5 separate regions of the Homo sapiens genome follow, and regions 1, 2, 3 and 4 are each reported to be linked to region 5. Evidence: microRNA targets listed by miRTarBase, many of them from high-throughput screens and not tested one by one. Region 5 holds a microRNA gene; each other region holds the end of a gene's coding sequence.
The links. Region 5 holds the annotated microRNA hsa-miR-208b-5p (AAGCUUUUUGCUCGAAUUAUGU, at 2,951-2,972, opposite strand). A microRNA usually pairs through its seed, bases 2 to 8, with sites in the 3' UTR of a target mRNA and lowers its output. Matches are read on the target gene's strand: a 7mer-m8 pairs with bases 2 to 8, a 7mer-A1 pairs with bases 2 to 7 and ends in A, and an 8mer does both.

Region 1 (4,113 bases), not on the chromosome of region 5:
TATCTCAAGTTAACGTACTTACCATTTTACTCCAAAACTTCATTAAGCTTTTTAATTAATTATGGCCTTTCCTTCTGCAGGACCGCCTGGGGCTAAAGGAAATGGACAATGCAGGACAGCTAGTGTTTCTGGCTACAGAAGGGGACCATCTTCAGTTGTCTGAAGAATGGTTTTATGCCCACATCATACCATTCCTTGGATGAAACCCGTATAGTTCACAATAGAGCTCAGGGAGCCCCTAACTCTTCCAAACCACATGGGAGACAGTTTCCTTCATGCCCAAGCCTGAGCTCAGATCCAGCTTGCAACTAATCCTTCTATCATCTAACATGCCCTACTTGGAAAGATCTAAGATCTGAATCTTATCCTTTGCCATCTTCTGTTACCATATGGTGTTGAATGCAAGTTTAATTACCATGGAGATTGTTTTACAAACTTTTGATGTGGTCAAGTTCAGTTTTAGAAAAGGGAGTCTGTTCCAGATCAGTGCCAGAACTGTGCCCAGGCCCAAAGGAGACAACTAACTAAAGTAGTGAGATAGATTCTAAGGGCAAACATTTTTCCAAGTCTTGCCATATTTCAAGCAAAGAGGTGCCCAGGCCTGAGGTACTCACATAAATGCTTTGTTTTGCTGGTGATTTAACCAGTGCTTGGAAAAATCTTGCTTGGCTATTTCTGCATCATTTCTTAAGGCTGCCTTCCTCTCTCAGTACGTTGCCCTCTGTGCTATCATCTTATCATCAATTATTAGACAAATCCCACTGGCCTACAGTCTTGCTTCTGCAGCACCCACTTTGTCTCCTCAGGTAGTGATGAATTAGTTGCTGTCACAAAAGGAGGGAAGTAGCACCCAAATTAAGTTGCTTAAGAGAGGAAATGTACATCTTGTATAACTTAGGGAGCGAAGAAAATGTAGGCGCGAAAGTGAAAAGTGAGGCAGCTAGTTCTTCCTATTCCATTCTCGACCAACCTGCCCTTTCTTAATATGACTAGTGGTCTTGATGCTAGAGTCAACTTACTCTGTTGCTGGCTTTAGCAGAGAATAGGAGGAACCATATGAAAAAGATCAGGCTTTCTGACTTCCATCCCCAAAACACATTTACCAGCATACTCCAAACTGTTTCTGATGTGTTCCATGAGAAAAGGATTGTTTGCTCAAAAAGCTTGGAAAATACTACACACTCCCTTTCTCCTTCTGGAGATCAACCCACATTAGAGTGTCTAAGGACTCCTGAGAATTCCTGTTACAGTAAACAAAACTAACGTAATCTACCATTTCCTACACTATTTGAGCATGGAAATCATAGTCCCCACTCTGTGAAAACTTAACGCTTTTTGGAAGACATTTCTGTAGCATGTCAGTTTGGAGAAATGATGAGCTACGCCTTGATGAAAGAACCGTGTTGGTGCTGCTAAGTTTAGCCATTATGGTTTTTCCTTTCTCTCTCTTAAGCCTTATTCTTCAACTAAAAGATGAGGATTAAGAGCAAGAAGTTGGGGGGGATGTGAAAATAATTTTATGAGGTTGTCTAAAATAAAGAGTAGTTTCTTATCCTTGGTGTTTTCAGTATTTTTTGCATTTCTGTACAGCCAATATCACAGGTAAACAACTAAGCAAGTTTGGTATTAACTTTATTCTATTTTCTGTATAACTTTAAGTACATAAAGGTTTATTTCCACAGGCCTCAGGAAATGGGTAGAAATCACAGGACAATCTCTCTTCCCACCAAAAAAAAGTTGCATATTTTGGTAAGTGTTTGTCCTAGAGGGAAAAACAACTGAAATTTACATTAGCAGTGCTGTGCAAGATTCTTACATAATTCAAGACCTAAAACCAGCCTGCAGTGGAGGTTTCAGTCCTCTGTTCAGGTGCTTAGACAGAAGCCATAAGCTGATGAGCATGACAGGGAAAAGGAGGCAGTGAAGACAGGTGACAGGCACCTGGCAGGGAAGAAGGATTCAGGAATGCCAGACTCCTTGAAATCATGTGGGTTTTTTTTTTTTTTTTTTTCCTTTTAAAGTCATCTCTATAGGAAGGTGCTGGGCAGGGATCCCAGAGAAAGAAAGGGTCCAAGACTCCATTAACTGCCCTGGATGAAGGGCACTGCTACAGCAGCTAGTACCAGAGACTCTCCTATCTCACGGTTGAGGCAGACCCAGGATAGAATAGAGAATAAAAGGAATGCTTATAGGAAACAATTTTGTATGGAATGCTAGATGGCCAAGCCTCAGCCTTTGGTCCAGTGCAACCCTTGCCTCGCTTGTCAACAGTGAAAAATTAGTTTGGTTAGAAGAACCATCTGGAAACACACCAGCTTCTGCTACCTTCATGCTCATTGTTAAAAAAAGATTAACCAGTGTGAACATTCTGATCTGTTAATTCCAGGGACTGTTTTCTTTCCAATGGACTGTTTGTTGGTAGAATAACCCCCAAAAGCTCAAAGCTAAAATGCATCATCAGTCCTAGTCGGCAGTTCCTTAAGAATGGACTGGCGGCGTGGTTGAGCTGATATGGAAAAGCTGCACCTTCCTGCAGAAGATCAACTGACCTGCTATCCCACCCCAAATTTCAGCCTGAGGTATATTTCAGTGAAGGCAGGTAGCTGTGCTTCTCAGAGCAGAGAAGCAGTTTTAAGAGCAAAAAGGTAGAGGAAATCTAGAAAAGAACCGTCTTGATACAGATTTATCCCATGGTGTGAAGGGAGGGCAAAGAACCCAGTGGCACTTCGCTTATCCAGCAATTTCTGTCACTGTGGTGACCAACTTCTGCCCGTTCCATAGGGTCTTGAACTGCTCAGGAACTGGGAATTCATTCTGCAAATAAAGAAGAGACAGCAGGTTTAAATCTGAGCTAAAGAACAGCTGGGGCTAAATCTCACACATTTCTCCCAATGCTTGCTTCCACTTAACCCCAGGAGCACGGTACAATGTAGCAAGAGACAAACCCACAGAGCCATGCTATGTTCTAGTGTTCAGCGATCTTGGACAGACTATTAAGTCTATGGGGTGTAAATAACAGTACATATGGCTTTATAGCACCAGCCTGACAAGGTGCCATGGCTCATCCCCATTATTTTTTGCTACCTTGAGCTCCACTTAGGCAGAAAGCACCTACCTTTGGGGCTCCACTACATGGGACTACCTCATTTCTGTGTACTTTTGGTGTGCATTATTGGGTTTTTACCTGCTCAGTGCAGAATGTTCATAAAATAGCTTTCTTCAATGCCAGAAATCTTCAGTCCCTTCTGTTTTTAACATCATACTAAAGAGATCAAGAAACTTACAAAGTCACCGCCTTCTGTAGGAATGAGGACATTCATCTCGGAAGATTTGGCACTGACTATTTCACAATCCAGGGAATTCTTGCTCAGGTAAGCATGGCAGCCATCTGTTTTGTTGATGGATATGGTTGGCACTTTACCCATTACCTGCAGAGTAAACAAAGAGAACTGAGTCCCAGTGGTTGGGAAGGACAACAGTAAGTCGCAGGAAAAGGTTTCCTGTTTCACGTGACTCAGCAACTACATGAAAAGCTCACAGATGCGCAAGACACTGGATACTCGGGTGGGTTGGGATGGGTCCTGAAAAGAACTTGCTTGAAGAGCCAACCCTTCTTCTGCCACGTCCAAAGCAGCTCAGCTTACAGACTTTGTAGAATCAGATTCCCACCAAAGCAACATCTGTGGGTCTACCATGTCTCTTTGAATTAATTCCTCAGGGACAAAAAGAAGGAGCCAAAATATCGAGTTACCTGAACTTTGACATCCTTACTGTTGATTATCTCCACAATGCCCACCACGTCATCGAATACCAGGCCAAGTTTCTTACAGTTATCTAGGAGAAGAAAGGGAGTGTGTCAACGTGTAACTTTAAAGGAAAGTAATATACATTTAGGAATCTTTAAGGATAGGGTAGGTAAAATGGTATTAGCCTTCTCGGGCTCTGGGACGGGGCTTGCGTGGGACAGCGACAAAGACTCACCTACTGTAATGGAGTTAATTTTGCCCTTGATTTGCAATGTCGTGTTGACACACTTGTATATGTAAGCCACCTGTTTCAGCTCTGTGTCCTCAATCACCAGGTTGGAAACATTTTCCTGATTTTCCTGTTAGA
Region 2 (4,119 bases), not on the chromosome of region 5:
TACGGCAAGACTTCGCACCTCAAGGCGCACCTGCGCTGGCACACGGGCGAGCGGCCCTTCGTGTGCAACTGGCTTTTCTGCGGCAAGCGCTTCACGCGCTCCGACGAGCTGCAGCGGCACCTGCGGACCCACACCGGCGAGAAGCGCTTCGCCTGTCCAGTTTGCAACAAGCGCTTCATGCGCAGCGACCACCTCAGCAAGCACGTGAAGACGCACAGTGGCGGCGGCGGCGGCGGCGGCTCGGCGGGCTCGGGCAGCGGCGGCAAGAAGGGCAGCGACACCGACAGCGAGCACAGCGCCGCGGGCAGCCCGCCCTGCCACTCCCCAGAGCTGCTGCAGCCCCCCGAGCCCGGGCACCGCAACGGCCTAGAGTGACGCCCACCCTGCGCCCGCCCCTCTCCCCGACCTCCTCCCACCAAGTCCTCTTGGGCCCTGTCTGTCCGGACTTCAACTCCAGCCTTTCCCTATTGCATCCGACTCGCTCTCTGTCTCTTTCTGTTTCTGCCCCTCTTCCTTCTTCCTTCTGTGACTTAACTTTGTAAAGGGGATATGGACAAGTAAGTAACACGCATCGCTGTCCCGGGCCCTGGCTTTCCCTTTCCACGGGTAACGCTGCCTGAACCCGTTGCAGCCGGAACCCGCGCCTCGTCGGGCCTTTATTTCTCGTTCTCTCTTCCTTGTCCTCCCCTCCTCCACCCCCCAGGTTGTGAAGGGCGTAACTTTTAGAGGGAACGGCCACTGGAGGTAGAGCTGGACTAATCCAGTGCCTGGTAGACAGCGGGCCTCGCGCGGGCAGGAGCGGCTCGGCTGACAAGCCTGAGCGGAGCGGTGGAGAGGGAGAGGCTGGAGGCCTGGGCAGAACAGCGCCGCCCGGGCAGACGGCTGCTTGGTTCCAGAGCCGCTGTACTGAGCACCTCGGCTTCGGAGCACCCTGCCAGGCCCCTGGGCATCGCCGGACGTCCTACTCAGGCTGTCGGGGCTTGGTGGGGGTGACTTTTGGCAGCCCGAGACCCAGAGTTTGTAGAGTTTAGATCTCCCAATGTCAGTCTGCCTCTTTTTCTTTGTTCCCTGAGGTGGAACCGATGCAAGTTTCAGCAAAGGGCAGTCTTGTCGAATCGCTGCAGCAGCTTTCTTTCATCTTTATAGCATATATTTTATTTTTAAAAAAACTAGGGGGAAAATAGCAACCTTCCATTTGGTTTCCCTTCTATAATAGTTTTTTCCTCTAACGGGGAGCAATCTTTCTCTCGAAACTGCTAATATTGATCCCAAAGTTACTTTGACTGCATTAACTTAACTTACGGGGTGGGGGCGGGGGTGAGGGTAGGTGCTTTTTTCTTATGCAAAAATACTCCTTTCCGGTGAGACCAGATTAACTATCTCCATGTTTGTCCTTTTCTACCTCGTTTTTTCACCACTCCCAAACATAACCTCCCAATCTTTTTTGTTAGTCCGGCCGTCAATTGTATAGTACCAATTTCGTAAATTCTCTCAATTCATGAAGATCGTAGGGTTAAACTTTTTTGTGTGTGATTTAAACTTACAAACAAGTGAAGAAGCTATCGTTTATTTCAGACGAGGCTGTAGTTTAAATACCAAAAGAGGGAAAATAAAAAAGAACCTTTGTAAAATATATCTGAACCTAATGGTTTGTACAACTGGAGAATCGTTCTAGATTAGTTACCAATTAAATATAACTCCGCCAGTGTAAGGGTGTGAGGTGCAGTTGTCCAGGAGACGATTTTGTATAGTATTTTTCTTGTACATTACTTCCAGTAAATATTTGAAAATATATTGAAGTAAACTTGATTTTTTTTTTTTGTCACAAGAAAATATTAAGAGTTATTGTTGCAGTTCTGATGAGCTGCAGGTTTTTTGAACTCACTTCTGGAGGTGCAGAGCCACAAACGCACTTTCGGGGCCTAGTTTTGCTCGAATATGAATTTAGATAGGTATCAAGCTGTAACTAAGACAATATTTGATAAATGTTGGATGACATTTAATTTAATGGAGCATGTACTTATTTGCATTTGCTGGCAGTTCAGGCATAGTTAAAGTGAGAGTTCTCCTATATTTCATAATAAGTGGTCTGCCAAAACCCATGTATTAAATAAATTGTCCAAGTGAAACTCGACTAACTTTGGCCTTTGTGTATTTCCTGAAGGTAATATTGTTAACTGTTAATAAATACTTCTGACACTACATTTAAATGTTTGCAGATTCTGCAAACTAATTGCTCATTGTAATGTTGAAATAATTTGGATATTTCACATTGAAATGAAAAGCCTTTCTCTGGAGCATTTTAGATTTGCATTTTAAATGCATGAAATGTAATTGATTTATTTGTAATATTTTAAATGGTATAATAAACTCAGATAAAAGACTAGGCCAGTTAATTTGTATTTTTTCCCCTTTTTAAACTATGGACGTGCATTTTATCTTCAGTTAATTGTCTAATTTAAACAAAATATATCCTTGTTTGTGGTAATATTTAAATAATTACCTTTAAGATGTTAGATGGAAAGATCTATTTGGCAAAGCTGTGTTTTCTCTGTTTACCAAGATAAAGATTATAGTGTCTAAGGAATGTAATTGATTATTTACCAGTAGATTTAGCTCATAGCATCAGGATTTACTGACCTCTTAAAATTTGTACTAAGTCACAATTCAAAGAAATTTCACCATTCTCTTTCCTTCTCAGTCTCCAGAAGGAGTCAGGTTGTTGGCCATTGATTGCATTAGTATTTAAAAGGCCAAGCCTTACATTGGAAGATCAATACATCTAAAATAAAAACATGGGTTTGGGGATAACTTTTGTTGTTAGGAGGTGGAGGAGGTCAAGCTAACAAAAGCTTGTTTTTGGCATTCCAAGTCTTAGCTAAAGATTATGTAGAGGTAAATATCAGTAGTAGATTCCTGTTGAAATGAGTTATCTGTTCTTTTAAAGTCTCTAAACAGCCACCAAAGAAAAGGAAGGTTAAACCTTAATCTATTTACTAGGCTATTGTTCATAGGTGTCAATGATGCCAATAAAAAATACTGTCTTGTTATGTCTAAGTGCATTTAGCAATGGGTGTTCCTGAGCCATACTTTGAAACATAAAATACTCTAAATGTTGATTGATGTTATATCACTATTTCACTATTAGATTAATATTATTATTTTGAATCAAATTGAATAAAAAGTTAGTGTGTTTGGATTCTTACAAGTTTAGCTTCTTTATTTCTGTTTGCAATCTCCCCACCCTAAGTATAGTCTTGGTATACATCTTGAACTGAAAAATTTTCCATTGAAATCTATATATGGTAATTATAATGCATAGAAGCAAGTGAAAATACAAAGTGCTATGAGCACTGTAAATTGAGAGGAAAAAGCAATTAGGGATAAAAGATGTTTTAGAATAATATAGCTCGTGTCCAAGTAGGTGACACCTTTAATCCTGCTGTCTATGCAGGTATTTGAGGCCTCCAGTCTCTATGGTTCTAGACAAACAAGTTAACTCTGATTCTTTGGTATACTATAGTTCTAAATAATGGATTTTAAAAGTAAAATAGTTTCTTTCTGTCACTTTCTTCCTAGGATAACAAGCAGAACACAGTTTAAGTGTTGTTTCTTTTTTATTGAAAGTTGCAATGCTGAGGGATTCGGAAAGAGCGGTTCTGAAGGAGTTAAATGTAGTGGCAGGTAAGAGGAAAGCTGCTTGGTACATTTATAATATCAGTTGCATTACATGCAGAATCAACATTGATTTAAGAGGTGGGTTATGACAAGGAGAAATATTGTCTGGAAGAAGATTTCTTTGGGGTGATTGAAGGGGGACATTTTTTCTGCTGTACAGATGTGCAAACTTTCCCTTTCTTCCTTCTGGCTCCTCACCCTTCTAGCTTTGCTTGGTTTGTTTTGGTGGTTATGGAACAGTATTTCTAGCTTAATTTTCTGCAGGGTGGGCAGGGTTCTTTTGGGAAAACAGAAGATGAGGTACCAAATTGTGATTTTTTTTTTTTTTTTGTTCCTGTTTTGTCCCTGATAAAGCACTTCCTGGCAGTAGCTGGAGGCTCACTCAAGTGAAGTCAAAGGCCAGGTCTCACTTTGAACCAAGGGACAAGCTTCCAGTCTGGC
Region 3 (4,108 bases), not on the chromosome of region 5:
TTTCTATCAAATATATCTGTAATTAGTCAAAGTGCTATAGTGTATGTTGAAATCAACAGTTCTATACTCAATAGTATTTAATTCCTTGTGCTTATAGTTTTTTCAAAATTGGCATAGACTATAAGTTCTGAAAGCAAAATATGGAATGCATGAATTTTAAATGACAGAATTAATTAAAATTCTTTACTGTTATTGACACGTACAATTTTATAGAAGCTTGGTTGAATAATATTTGCATATGATTTACATTTGATTTCCTCATACTCATTTTTGCATATAGTTTGCAGGCATTTCAATGTATAGTAATTTCATATATTTGGAGTAAGACTGATAGATGGAAGGGAGTCATTCAACTAAATTGTTGAAAGGGGAAGGCCCTGAGAGAGCTCAACTGTTCTTGGTCCTTGGTGGCCTCACTGGGCAGTAACAAGGGCAAGTCTATTGAAGGGCAAGTTCACCTTGATCAGATAAGCTGAGTCTCGCACTCTGGAAGAGACTTGAAGTTCTGTTGGTCAGGTACTTTCCCTGAACACAGTCCCTGCCCCCCAAAAAATGTCCCCCTCCCCAAACAAAAAGCATGGAGAAATGGTCAAAACAACCGTGGCTCCATATATACTTCTTTCTCAATTTTGAAATCTATAAATATTTATAGATGTTCTTTATTTGACAAATAAAAATTGTATATATTTATCATGTACAACTCGATAGTTTGAAATATGTATACATTGTGGAATGGATCAGTTGAACTAATTAACATATGTATCACCTCACACACTAGCATTTTTTGTGGTGAGAACACTTAAAATGTACTTTCAAACACTTTTGAACTCTCTAGAATTTTAGCTTGTCCAATCTCTTGAGAGAAATGAGTCCATCAATACAGAAAATCAGCAATGGGAGGCAAGAAGAGATTCTTTGAACTAACACAGGAAAAAAGCACATCTCAATATTTATTTAGATAAAGGGTGTAGATTGTCACTGCTGGGAAATATTTGCTGGGTTACCCATGTTAACGATCTGAATAAATTTAGAGTTGGCCTACAGTGGTGCTCAAATTGGCTCATCTCCAGACATGAATGAACATAGAGCTGCTCTCTTTGCTTTTGGTGTTTCCCTAATTCTCTCATTTTTTTTTTTTTTTAGGAGAAAGAGGAGTAGCTTAACTATGGGTTGAGGAATTTTAGCTAGATGCCAAAATTCCATGCCACATGCTAGAGCCTGGCAAGTTACTGAAGATGTTTATAGCTGCTATTTAGGCCCAAAGAGTCAATTCTGGCCTCAGGGATCACAGGCTTTTCTGGGATGGAATTAGTAAGATAATTATGGTTATTCCTACGCAGAGGGATAGGATAAAACATGCCTCCCAGAAAGACTGGTCTTGTGACACATAGAGGATAAATAAGAAGATAATAAAAATTGGAAGAAGGGTAAAGAAGGGGCAGAAATAACAGAGCTGGCAGCTAACTCTTTGTGAAGGGCGAAATAGAATGAAGAGTCATGACTGACTTCTAGATTTCTGGTCTGAGTGCAGTGATGTCATTCATTGAGTTGGAAAAAAACACAAGGAGAAGTAGGTTTTTGGGCTGTGTTAACTTCATAGTAACTATAGGATAACCTACTGGATATTCTCACTAGGCAGCTAAATGCATGGTATAGAGCTCAGGAAAAATACCTGTGGAAAAAAAACTTAAAAAGTGGTGAAAGAATCCGAGGAAATGAAAGAAAGCATGTGCAGGTAAACTGAGGCAGGGCAAGGACTAAGACTGCTACCATTTTATAAACCTCAAAAGCCTTCACTTCTGAAATGTTTTTTTCCAAAAAGCTTACGGCTCTTTGAGGATCCAATGAGTATACTAAAGTAGAGATTGCAAAGGCAAATGACTTCAAGACCGAGAATCTACAAAAAAAGATAAATAACTGGTTATAACAGGGACTAATTAAACTAGGGAAGGCATGTTCTGCCTAAGTCATTCGAGTTTTTTTTTGTTTTTCGTTTTTAATTCTGTTGGTGCCCAAGCAAAATACATCATCTACAAAGAGGACTTACTCAGCATGGCAGCCAGCTTGTGCCTCCAGAGTAAACGTCTATAAACCAACTTCTTGCAAATCATTCCCTGAACACAGATAGCCTGGATTGAAATCTCCTGGAGAGCACTGACCTTAACATCTACTTATATTTTCTTCCAAATCCAACACAGTGACCACAGAGAAGGCTACCTACCTCCTTTTAGGGACAGCCTGAAGATCTGCAATACTCACCAGATGCCTAAAGAAGAGGTTAAAACATTTCTGCCAATTCTTAGTAGGGTGAGACACACCTGCCCCTTGATGCCCTGCAGACATAACAGCTGTCTGCCAGTACTTCTCATAGAACTAATTCAGGGCATCATTATTTAGAATTCAGCAATGAAAGAGTGTGTTTCCTTTCTCTCTTCCAATGCAACTACACAACAACCCCTTAACATTGTAGAGATTGGAAAATCCTGGTTTTCAGGATTTTCAGGAAAATCTGAGAGCAATCTCTTTTTGGAAGCTCTCCACATTCCTGCGATCTTTTCTTTACATGCTTGGAGCATAAGGCCTTCTGGATCCAGAGCCAAGGACACAGTCAGGCTGTTTAAAGTATTCTTCAGTTTGAAAAGAAATGGGCCCCGTACAAATGTGTGAATTTGGTGAAATTGCCTTTAACAACCTTACCAAATGTATCAATACCAGGTGAGCCTTTGTTCTGATCTCCATTTAAACCCCCTGCACAGCCTAGAGCAGTTGCATATGACATAATCTCTCCTCTCCTTAGTATCACAGCTTTATGCATCATCTTCTCCAAAAAGCAGCTTTTTGATAAAGGACTTGGCCACTTGGCTTTCTCTGATCTCCCAATGTAGTTCTTTTCCAGTTGTAAATGTGACCCAGCTACTAACAGAGAGAATCACTGAAAAATAGAACAGTGGTCATACAAAATTTCCTTTCCCAAATTTGGCATTTTTACATCTTTGTCCTTAACTAAACTCTCAGCAAAGCCCATGAGAATATCAATTTTCATGTGTAAATCCTCATGAAGTGCAAATTTGATACGCTCACACTACTGTAGGTTCTCAATAATGATTGAATTTAAACCATGAAATAAAATCCACTTGTAAAAAGCCAGGAAGTTGCCTTGTGGTTGGAAGGTAAGCTCTGACAGATCAGGGAGCAGGGTGTTGAACTGTCCCTTCAAATGCTACTACAGGATAAAGAAATGCTTTTCTGTAACAGTGTGGAATTAAACTGTAGCTGACCAGACCTTTTCATGATCCCTTCTATAAAAGAAGCTCAAAGCATTGTGGGTGGTCAATCCAGAGAATGCTTAATAATAACCCCTGCTGGTATAAGTCAGTATTACACCATTATCAAGTTGTTAAAATCAGGCTTAAGTTAAAAACTGGTAAATAATTAACAAGTGCCATTATTTGCCTAGCATTGAACTAGGATCATGATAGCTGCAAAATATGTATGAGACATTTTTCAGTCTGTAAGCATTTATATGACTGTTTTCCATTTTAAAGTTGAAAAAGGGATTCAGAGTCCACATTCTCTCTTCTTAGTTGTCCCAGCAGGACAGTCCTCACTTCCCCAGCTTATTATCCAGAAATACTGGGAACATTCTGCCTTTCAGGCCAAATGCCCCCAACTTCCCTGATCACAGTTGCTCCTGAATAGTTTCCGGGTGTACTGAATGAAGGCAGAATGCCTCAGTGGCCCCGCAGGAGGCTTTCTTCTCTTGGGAAAGCCCCAAGCTGCCACTTTGCTTACTCAGCCGACTTTGCCCTGGCAACTGCTGCCTCTCTTGTCTGAAGTCTGGGCATAGCAGCAGCAGCTGATTTTGGCCTGCCAGCTGGTATCTGAGCAACTGCTCTTGGCCCTCCTTCCAGTTCCCAGTCTCTTGCAGGTACACCTGCTGAGCAGGAGCACCTGGAGCACAGATGTGCCCATGGGATGTGATGCCAGTAGTACCAGGAGCAGGCACAGCAGCCTCTTCCTCTCGGACAATGTGGCGGCTAACTTTCCTTCTGGACACTCCATTCATCAACTGGTGGGGGCACTGGTTCACCTTGCCCAGCATGACCTT
Region 4 (4,119 bases), not on the chromosome of region 5:
TGGCAAGAATCTGGAGCCAGTTTAAAGATGATAAGAGAATCTCTCTAACTCTTTAGTGACCCAGTGGTGACTTGAAGATACACAATGATTCTTTCCCTGGTTCTTAGGGAAGTAGCAGAAACATAGCCAGTTTTGTTGCTAAGGAATTTCTCTAGATATGTGGTCATTCCTTTTTATTATCAGTTCACCGGTGACAAGGATGGGAGTATCCACTGAGTTTCTGATGGATTTTTAAGATGGTATTCGCCTACTACAAAAAAGGCATGATTTTTTTTTTACCTGCCATTGTAAGATTGCTAGTGTTTTTGGATGAAAGGCACCTGAGAATCATAAGTATTAGAGATTTGGGCAATGTTCTCCACAGGTGTATTCAGTATTGTCGCCTAGTATTAATTATGTGTTCATTATGCATTTGTACCAATGTACCTTAATGGAATTTAAAAAAGAAGTCTTTGAAGTGACTTTTTATCTATCACTAGCCAAAATGATCGTCTCAACTCTTCCTAATCAGAAGAGTCACTGGTCAAATACCACAAAATTGGAATCTTAATCATTTTTAAGCCTAAGCCAGTGGCTCACTTATTGGAACAAGGATCATACTACAGAAGGATTTGAACAGCTCTTAAAGTTAGAAAATAGAGAATTTGATCCACAAAACATTTTGGGGTGGATATGCCAAAAACTAAACCAAACTGATTTAGAAATTTTTATTTTGACAGAAGCGATCCAAGCAGCGGAAGTTACAGCAGAAGGCCTTCCGCAAGAGGCAGCTGAAGGAGCAGAGGCAGGCCCGGAAGGAGAGGCTCAGTGGGCTCTTCCTTAACGAAGAGGTGCTGTCCTTGAAAGTGACTGAGGAAGACCATGAAGCAGATGTTGATGTTTTGATGTAATAAGGGTGAATTTATCAACGTTCTTTGTGAGCATTAAAATACTCCATCCTTATGGGTTTACATGCATCTTGACCAAAATTTTGGTTAGGGCTGTGCTGATGTACCATTAATAATTTAAGCCAGTGGTTCTTGGCAGGTGATCCCAAGACCTGCAGCTTCAGCATCACTTGAGAAGTTGTTAGGAATGCATACTAGTGGGCCCCGCCCCCAGACATAGTGAATCAGAAACCAACAGGGAGGCGCCTAGCATTGTTTTTTTAACAAGTGCTGGGTTATTCTGATGCACAGTCTAGTTTAAGAACCACTACTTTGGGTAAACGTTTTGACTGTTTAAAGTTTATGGCGGTGAAGTGGGCGTCTTCAAAGACTAGTACTTACACAGTTTAGAAGATTTCAAGGTACTGCTGACAGTAGTTTATTATGTCAGTATACATACATGTGTAGAGATCATAATTTAGTTCCCTTCTTAATGTTACAATTTCTTAGTTTACTTTTCCTAAAGGGCCATAGCATAATTCTTGATTCCTGGTGGAAATCTTTTCTGAGGTGTGGGGGTGGGCAAGGTGTGGATTGCTGTTTACGATAGTGCCTTCATTAGTTTTAGTTCTGTCTGTTTTCATTCATTATTGACTCAAAGGTATTAGAACAGGCCCTTATCTTTTTCCTATTAGATTTATTTTTGTTTTTTACTTTATGTAAGTTCAGAATCCTTTTTTAAGTGATGACTACTGATGAAATAATGTTACTAGTAGCTGAATTTTAGACTTGATGCTATGTTGATTAATATTTAAATGGTGAAAGTAATTAGGCAAAATAAGCAATTCTGCTTTTCTGTTGCTTTCAGAATTTTTAGGCTGTAAAATTGTCTCAGGCAGGAAGTCAGTCTATATCTCTCTCAAGTTCTTATTGTAGGTCATTTTTTTTTCAGCACAGCTCTAATTTTTAAATATTTGGTATAACAGCTTCTGGCATGTGACCTAGTTAATGTTGAAAATTAACTGATGAAAACCCTTGTAGATCTGCTAAACTTCTCTATAAATTGCTAGAAATATACAGAGCAATGAGATATAGAAAACACCTTAGCTTGTTGGTTATTAATAGAGCTCTAATTTTAACTGTGAAATCATGGAGTTTCTTTAAATGTTTTCCTAGAGTGTTTGTTATCATGAACATTAGAAATAGCATTATTCCTTTTCTTCTACCACATGTCTTGAACATTCACATGGGTTAAAGAAGATGGAAACTGATACTACTGACAATCAAGCTGCTTTCTGACTTTCATAATTTTCTTTATATTGTGGATAGCATTTTGAAGGTGACCGTGATTCTGTAGGAAGAGCTGTAATCAATATTTTTCAAACTCTAAGAGTACAGAGGTTAGTAAGATTTCTTTTTTTTTTACTTTTTGTTACGTCAAGTAGCTTATTAAGAAAAAGATTCATGACTTAAATTCTTAATTCTCAGTTGATACAAAGGCTTATAATCATGTGTTTTAAAATTTTGATTTCATTTTCGTTCCTTGAAGGTTAAAGAATGGAAACTGGGGATAAAAATTAATACACTGCAGCTTTGCCAAGGTCTGTGATATGGTTGTAACCTTTTAAAGACTACTAAAGTCATAATTTGAAATTTTTACTAAAATAAAACATATGTGTCTATGGTTTTCAATTGGAGTAGTCTTTCTTACTTTCCCCCTTCCCCTCTTTGGTTCTCCTAACCAGCTTAGAGGACCCAAAGAGAGCTTAGGGATAGACACCAGAATACTCTGTGGAGGTGGAACAACTTAACCTCACTGTTTTCCCTTCCAAGTATAGGAAGAGCAAATAGAGCATAGTAACTGTATCTAAATTCTCTACCTGCTCTTAGCAAAAGCAAAATCCCACAGAATGATTGCCTGCTGTCTTTACCTATTCTTCAAGGAAAACAGGCCACTTTTGGAGACCATAGAGCACCATTTATCTGTCAAATACTTGGAAACTATTTACTTAACGGTCATCAGTAAAAAACCCTAAACAAGGTCATGATATAATTTAAGACCAATTCCCCTACTCTCCCAATAATCACATAGTCTTATTACTTTCAATTTAACTTGAGTCACTATTAAGCAAGTTTACCAAAGTGCCACAAAGTTGATTTTTAACGTTTGTAAAGGTTTGAATGTTTATAGAAGTGCATCATGAAATTTTGTGTAAATCCAGATGAACTGTCATTATAGTACTATAAATTAGAGATAGTCCATAAAGTTGGGTTGAAGGAGATTGAAAATATTTCCTTTGATTAAAAGAAAATAATTAACTAACTTGGGCTTGCTTGTGATTGAAGAGGGAGATTAGATAGTCCTCTGTCCCCCCAAAAAAGAAACTAGCAGAGAAAGACATAAAAAGCTCTTTGGTGTCTGTTCATGTGCTGTACATTTTTTCCGTTTTAATGTCTTGTGTAGATAATTCAAAGTTTGAACTATTTCTTTCTTGGAATAAGTAATAATTTATTCAATATGGTGTATCTCTGAGTTCAATTTAAAACAATCCAACTCAGTAATATTTATTTTTAAATACAAATCCTAACTAACCAATTAATTAATAAAAAGGCAAGACTTACTTGCTGTAGTATTGGTTCTCATCTGTAGAGAACTGACATTGGAGCAAATTTTAAGTCTCCCCTTTGAAAATAAGCCTTGTTAACTGAGGGCGTAATACATTTCCCACAGATTTATCCAGAAACATTTTATTAGAGATCTTATAGTAGTATCTCAGTTCCTACTACAGCTTTCTAAAGGATGAGACTTGCATTTAACAAAATGACATATATAATATTTTTCTATAGTTTTGCAACTGAATTAAAGGAAGGTGATGTATTATAATGTGTAGTGAGGTATAAAGGGCTAGTTCATTCTCTCCCAACAAGAACTTAGAATAAAATAACACTTTTTTTTCATGAGACTTACCTCATTTTTGTTAGGCTATGGCAGTTTTGTCCAGTTCCTCTGTCCCTTGAGTGAATTAGATATTGGTGAATTAATCTCAGAAACTGACCTATAAAATAATGACTCATTATAGATTGGGTGAACTTCTCATTTTATTTAGCTTTTAAAAGTGCTAAATCCTCTCATAAAGGAAAAATTATAGGAAACTATAGCGGTATCCAGATTCTGATGAGCTTTAAAAATTATAAAATATAGCAAATGTCTTCATATTTTAGCCAGAAATATTAGTACACAACCAATATAGAA
Region 5 (4,119 bases):
ATTCTCCAGCTCCCGCACCCGCGCTTCCAGCTTCTGCAGCTGCTTCTTGCCGCCCTTGAGGGCGATCTGCTCGGCTTCGTCCAGCCGGTGCTGCAGGTCCTTAATGGTCTGTTCCATGTTCTTCTTCATGCGCTCCAGGTGGGCGCTGGTGTCCTGCTCCTTCTTCAGCTCCTCTGCCATCATGGCGGCCTGTGTGCAGGAGAGAGGTGGCACATGGTCTGGTCAAGTCCTCACACACTTGCTGCCCAGCCCACGGAGAGACACTGGTCTGGATCGGGTCGGTGGAGTGGGGGACTTACATCCGTGATGGCCTTCTTGGCCTTCTCCTCAGCATTCCTGCACTCCTGCACTGCCTCCTCCACTTCAGTCTGGAGCTGGGACAGGTCAGCATCCATCTTCTTCTTCTGGTTGATGAGGCTGGTGTTCTGGGTTGGGGGAGGGTTGGGCAGAGCAGGAAAAGCATTGAGCATCTATGCATAGCTCTCAAGCCTTGCTTGCTGAGCCCCAGCCTGTGCTCCCTTCAGGAATGAGCAGGGGAGCTGCTCACCTGGGAATGCAGCAGCTGCACCCGCTCACTAGTCTCAATCAGCTCCTGCTCCGCCAGCTTCCGGGACCGCTCTGTCTGCTCCACCACGGCACGCAACTCCTCCAGCTCAGCCTGCAGCAGGTTGTTGCGCCGCTCCACGATGGCGATGTTCTCCTTCAGGTCGTCGTTGGCACGGACTGCATCGTCCAGCTGAATCTGGGTGTCCTGAGGATCAGGAGAGTGGGCATGAGCAGGGAGCCAGCCTCGGTTCCCTTCACTAAAGGCACCTGTCAGAGGTCCCTGCAGTAACCTAGGGGCAGGAGGAATCTGGTGCCTGTATCAAGACACTACTGCTTCGCCAGGCCACGTGGAGGCCAGTCCCCTCTGGGTGAGTACCTTCAACAAGCTCTGGAGGCTCTTGACTTGCTTCTGGGCCTCGGCGGCCATGCGGTTGGCGTGGCTGAGCTGGATCTCCATCTCATTGAGGTCTCCTTCCATCTTCTTCTTCACCCTCAGGGCCTCGTTGCGGCTGCGTGTCTCTGCGTCCAGGGAGGTCTGCAGCGAGTCCACCACCCGCAGGTGGTTGCGCTTGGCCTGTTCCATCTCCTCGTCCTTCTCTGCCAGCTTCCGCTCGATCTCTGCCTTGATCTGGTTGAACTCCAGCTGGGCCCGGAGGATCTTGCCCTCCTCGTGCTCCAGGGAGGCCTGGGAAGGGGTTGGGGGAGGGGATGCAGGCAGACAGTCAGGGCACAGGGCAGGGTGGGGGCCTGCTCACTAATCATGGATACGAAGTGACTTCAAGAGTGGTGTAAGTGGTTCAAAGAAGCAGAAGGTGGAGGAAAAGAGAATCTAAGAGAAAATAAAAATAAGCCTAAGAGAAAGTGATTCAGGCCCTCACAGGGGAGAGCCAGCTATGAAGACAAGGAGGAAAATGAAGAGAAAAGTGTTGCCAAGGAAACAGAGGCAATCAGGTATAGAGTATAAAAGAAAACAGAGGGAGGCAGAGGTGGGAACCGGGAGGTATGTGGAAATGGGAAGCTCAGCTAAGATGCAATGGGTAAAATGTTTATGTGAAGAGAGTTCAGTGACTGGTCATTCATTCACTCCACAAATCTTCACTGAATGCCTACTATGTGCCAGGCTCTGTCCTAGGCTCTGGGGATGGGACAGTGAACAAAACGGACAAAGCGGGGGATGAGAACAGGGACCAAAAGCCTGGAGCTCAGCTCCCTGCACCCCGTGCCCTGCACACACACACACCTCGGCCTCCTCCAGGGCTGACTGCAGCTCCATCTTCTCGGCCTCCAGCTGCTTTCGGACCTTCTCCAGCTCATGGATAGTCTTTCCGCTGGAACCCAACTGCTCAGTCAAGTCGGAGATCTCCTCTGTGTGGGGAACACGGTAACTCGGTTGAGGGCTGCTGAGGTCCAGTGGAGTTGGAGGGACACGCCTCTTTGCCCAGACGCCTCTTGGAGCCCTTGGGTGGCACCATATGGGAACACTGCCAGTGCAGCCCCTCCCCAGCCTCTTGGGCCCCCAGCACACCCTGCAGGTTTTTGTTCTCCCGCTTGAAGGTCTCCAGATGTTCCAGGGACTCCTCATAGGCGTTCTTGAGTTTGAAGAGCTCTGTGCTGAGGGAGCGAGCCTCCTTCTGCGAGGACTCCAGCTCCGACTGCGACTCCTCATACTTCTGCTTCCACTCGGCCAGGATCTGCCCGGGGACAAGGCTCACTCTTCAGCCCCCCAGCCTCAGCCCCATGTCCAGGGTCTGTCTCAGGACCTGCCTGGGCTCAGCCCTCCTCCCCCACCTCCAAGGAGGATGGCTCTGGCCTCTCACTGAACCCCTCATGCCCCCTTGCCCTGCATGCTGGCTGCGGCCCCCACCCAGGGCCCACCTTGTCGAAGTTCCTCTGCTTCTTGTCCAGGGCTGCAGCAGCAGCATTGGAGCGCTCTACGTCCACCATCAAGTCCTCGATCTCATTCTGTAGCCGGTGCTTGGTCTTCTCCAGCGAGGAGCACTTGGCATTAACAGCCTCCACGGCCTCCTCAGCTTCCTGCAGCCGCTGGGCCAGCTTCTTCCTGCCCAGGGGAGGGTGGCAGAGGGTGGGGAGGATGGAGGGTGTGGATGGGGACAAGAGGAAACAACATGAACCTTCTCAAAGACAATCCTTGAAACCTCAGAAGTGTAGCTGGAGAAGCCTGAGGACAGGTCCCAGGGGCCGAGAACATCAGGCAGAGGATCCCAGCAGGGCGTGGAGACCCAGGCACCCTCTGACCCTGGCCCAGCCTCTGCGCTATGGACATTGAGGAGGTATGGGCTTCTGCAGCCCTCCCCACTGCCTTTCCCTGCCACAGTGCCCTGCCCCAGACGGAAGCACTCTGCCCTCAGACAAACCTTTTGTTCGTCTTATATTCGGATCAGAAACATAATTCGAGCAAAAAGCTTCCCTGAGAGGAGAAGGAGGTGGGGCCGGGGCAGAGTCCTCCTGTGTTGTCAAACACTAGCTAAGCATCGCCTGTGTGGGATCTGCTGAGGCTGGGGCTGGGCTGAGTCCTGCCTGCAAAGGGGCCTCAGCCAGAAGTCAGGCTGCTCAGAACTCACTTGGCCTCCTCGAGCTCCTCAGTCCGCTGAATGGCGTCCGTCTCATACTTGGTCCTCCACTGGGCCACCTCCGAGTTGGCCTTGGAAAGGACGCGCTGCAGCTCGGCCTTGGCCTCCGTCTCCTCCTCGTACTGCTCCCGCAGCAGGTCGCAGTCATGCCGGGCCGACTGCAGTGCGTGGGCCAGGGCGTTCTTCGCCTGGGGAGGGGTGGGCACCAGGAGGTGGGTTCAGCTTTCTCCATAAAGCAACCCCACCCTTGCCCTTCTCCTCACCCCAATCTCAACATCATCCCTTGGCCTCATCTATGTCCAAACCCCCAGTGGACCTGTCATGGTTTACTGTTTGCTGATAACAAAGAATGCCAATACAGCAGTGAACTATTTAAGAAAAGCTTCATGGCCATTGGCCCTGAGCTCCTCCCCACACCAGACATGGTCATCATCACCGCCATTTTACCTGGCTGGGGAGAGGGAAACAGGCTCAGAAAGGTTAGGGGACTTCCCTAACCTAAGATCACTGAGCTATAAGAGGCAGGTTAGTATGAACCCTGGAGTTTTTTAAAAATCATGTTCTTTCTCCTTTTTCATGAGTCCAGCAAAGTGCTAGGAATAGGCTCCAGTTGAATTTCTTTCTCCAGTTTTCAGGTGGCCCTGCAAATCCCAGGACCCATTTGTGCAGTCCCTACATCCCCTAGCCGTGCCCGGGCAAGGCCATCTCGTGCCTCCCTAGTTCATTTTCTCTCCTCCTTCTCACACCCTGCCTCCCGTCCAGGGATGCAGCAGAAGCAGAGGGCCTCAGCCTGGGGAGTAGATGGCATGTGGCAGGGTTTGGGCTGTGATTTCTTTTTAGAATTCTTGGAGAACTGTTGGTCCACAGCCAGCCTTATTGCTGGGAAGGGAAGTGATTTGATGCAAGGCTAGTCAGTGTGCTCCTTGCTTGGGCCAGGTGGCCCGAGTCTAGCCCTTACCTTAACCTCCTCCTCCAGCTGCCT

Region 1: the mRNA of PPT1 is a reported target of hsa-miR-208b-5p. Seed matches in the 3' UTR shown: 7mer-m8 at 1,159-1,165.
Region 2: the mRNA of SP8 is a reported target of hsa-miR-208b-5p. The part of its 3' UTR that is shown has no 7-base or 8-base seed match.
Region 3: the mRNA of PKHD1 is a reported target of hsa-miR-208b-5p. Seed matches in the 3' UTR shown: 7mer-m8 at 2,833-2,839.
Region 4: the mRNA of FAM199X is a reported target of hsa-miR-208b-5p. Seed matches in the 3' UTR shown: 7mer-m8 at 3,270-3,276.

The regions. Positions count from the first base shown.
Region 1 is chr1:40,070,151-40,074,263 of GRCh38, reverse strand. PPT1 (palmitoyl-protein thioesterase 1) reads left to right here. Exons shown (of 9, transcript NM_000310.4): 9 at 81-1,552. The coding sequence ends at 203. CAP1 (cyclase associated actin cytoskeleton regulatory protein 1) reads right to left here. Exons shown (of 13, transcript NM_006367.4): 10 at 3,982-4,105; 11 at 3,752-3,834; 12 at 3,285-3,428; 13 at 1,616-2,814. The coding sequence ends at 2,731. Among named protein-coding and RNA genes, the nearest start is that of PPT1, 25 kb to the left of the region's middle. RefSeq lists an enhancer at 3,226-4,113.
Region 2 is chr7:20,780,546-20,784,664 of GRCh38, reverse strand. It overlaps SP8 (Sp8 transcription factor), which reads left to right. Exons shown (of 2, transcript NM_182700.6): 2 at 1-2,386. The coding sequence ends at 375. Among named protein-coding and RNA genes, the nearest start is that of SP8, 4.3 kb to the left of the region's middle. RefSeq lists an enhancer at 741-1,401.
Region 3 is chr6:51,615,402-51,619,509 of GRCh38, forward strand. PKHD1 (PKHD1 ciliary IPT domain containing fibrocystin/polyductin) reads right to left here. Exons shown (of 67, transcript NM_138694.4): 67 at 1-4,108. The coding sequence ends at 3,680. Among named protein-coding and RNA genes, the nearest start is that of PKHD1, 470 kb to the right of the region's middle.
Region 4 is chrX:104,188,889-104,193,007 of GRCh38, forward strand. It overlaps FAM199X (family with sequence similarity 199, X-linked), which reads left to right. Exons shown (of 6, transcript NM_207318.4): 6 at 720-4,119. The coding sequence ends at 890. Among named protein-coding and RNA genes, the nearest start is that of FAM199X, 24 kb to the left of the region's middle.
Region 5 is chr14:23,415,082-23,419,200 of GRCh38, forward strand. It overlaps MIR208B (microRNA 208b), which reads right to left and starts at 2,982; the gene lies at 2,906-2,982. It overlaps MYH7 (myosin heavy chain 7), which reads right to left. Exons shown (of 40, transcript NM_000257.4): 29 at 4,096-4,119; 30 at 3,129-3,325; 31 at 2,422-2,605; 32 at 2,072-2,237; 33 at 1,787-1,911; 34 at 923-1,231; 35 at 548-751; 36 at 300-425; 37 at 1-189. MHRT (myosin heavy chain associated RNA transcript) reads left to right here and starts at 369. Exons shown (of 6, transcript NR_126491.1): 1 at 369-420; 2 at 540-748; 3 at 920-1,216; 4 at 1,835-1,927; 5 at 2,131-2,292; 6 at 2,452-2,514. RefSeq lists an enhancer at 165-1,364.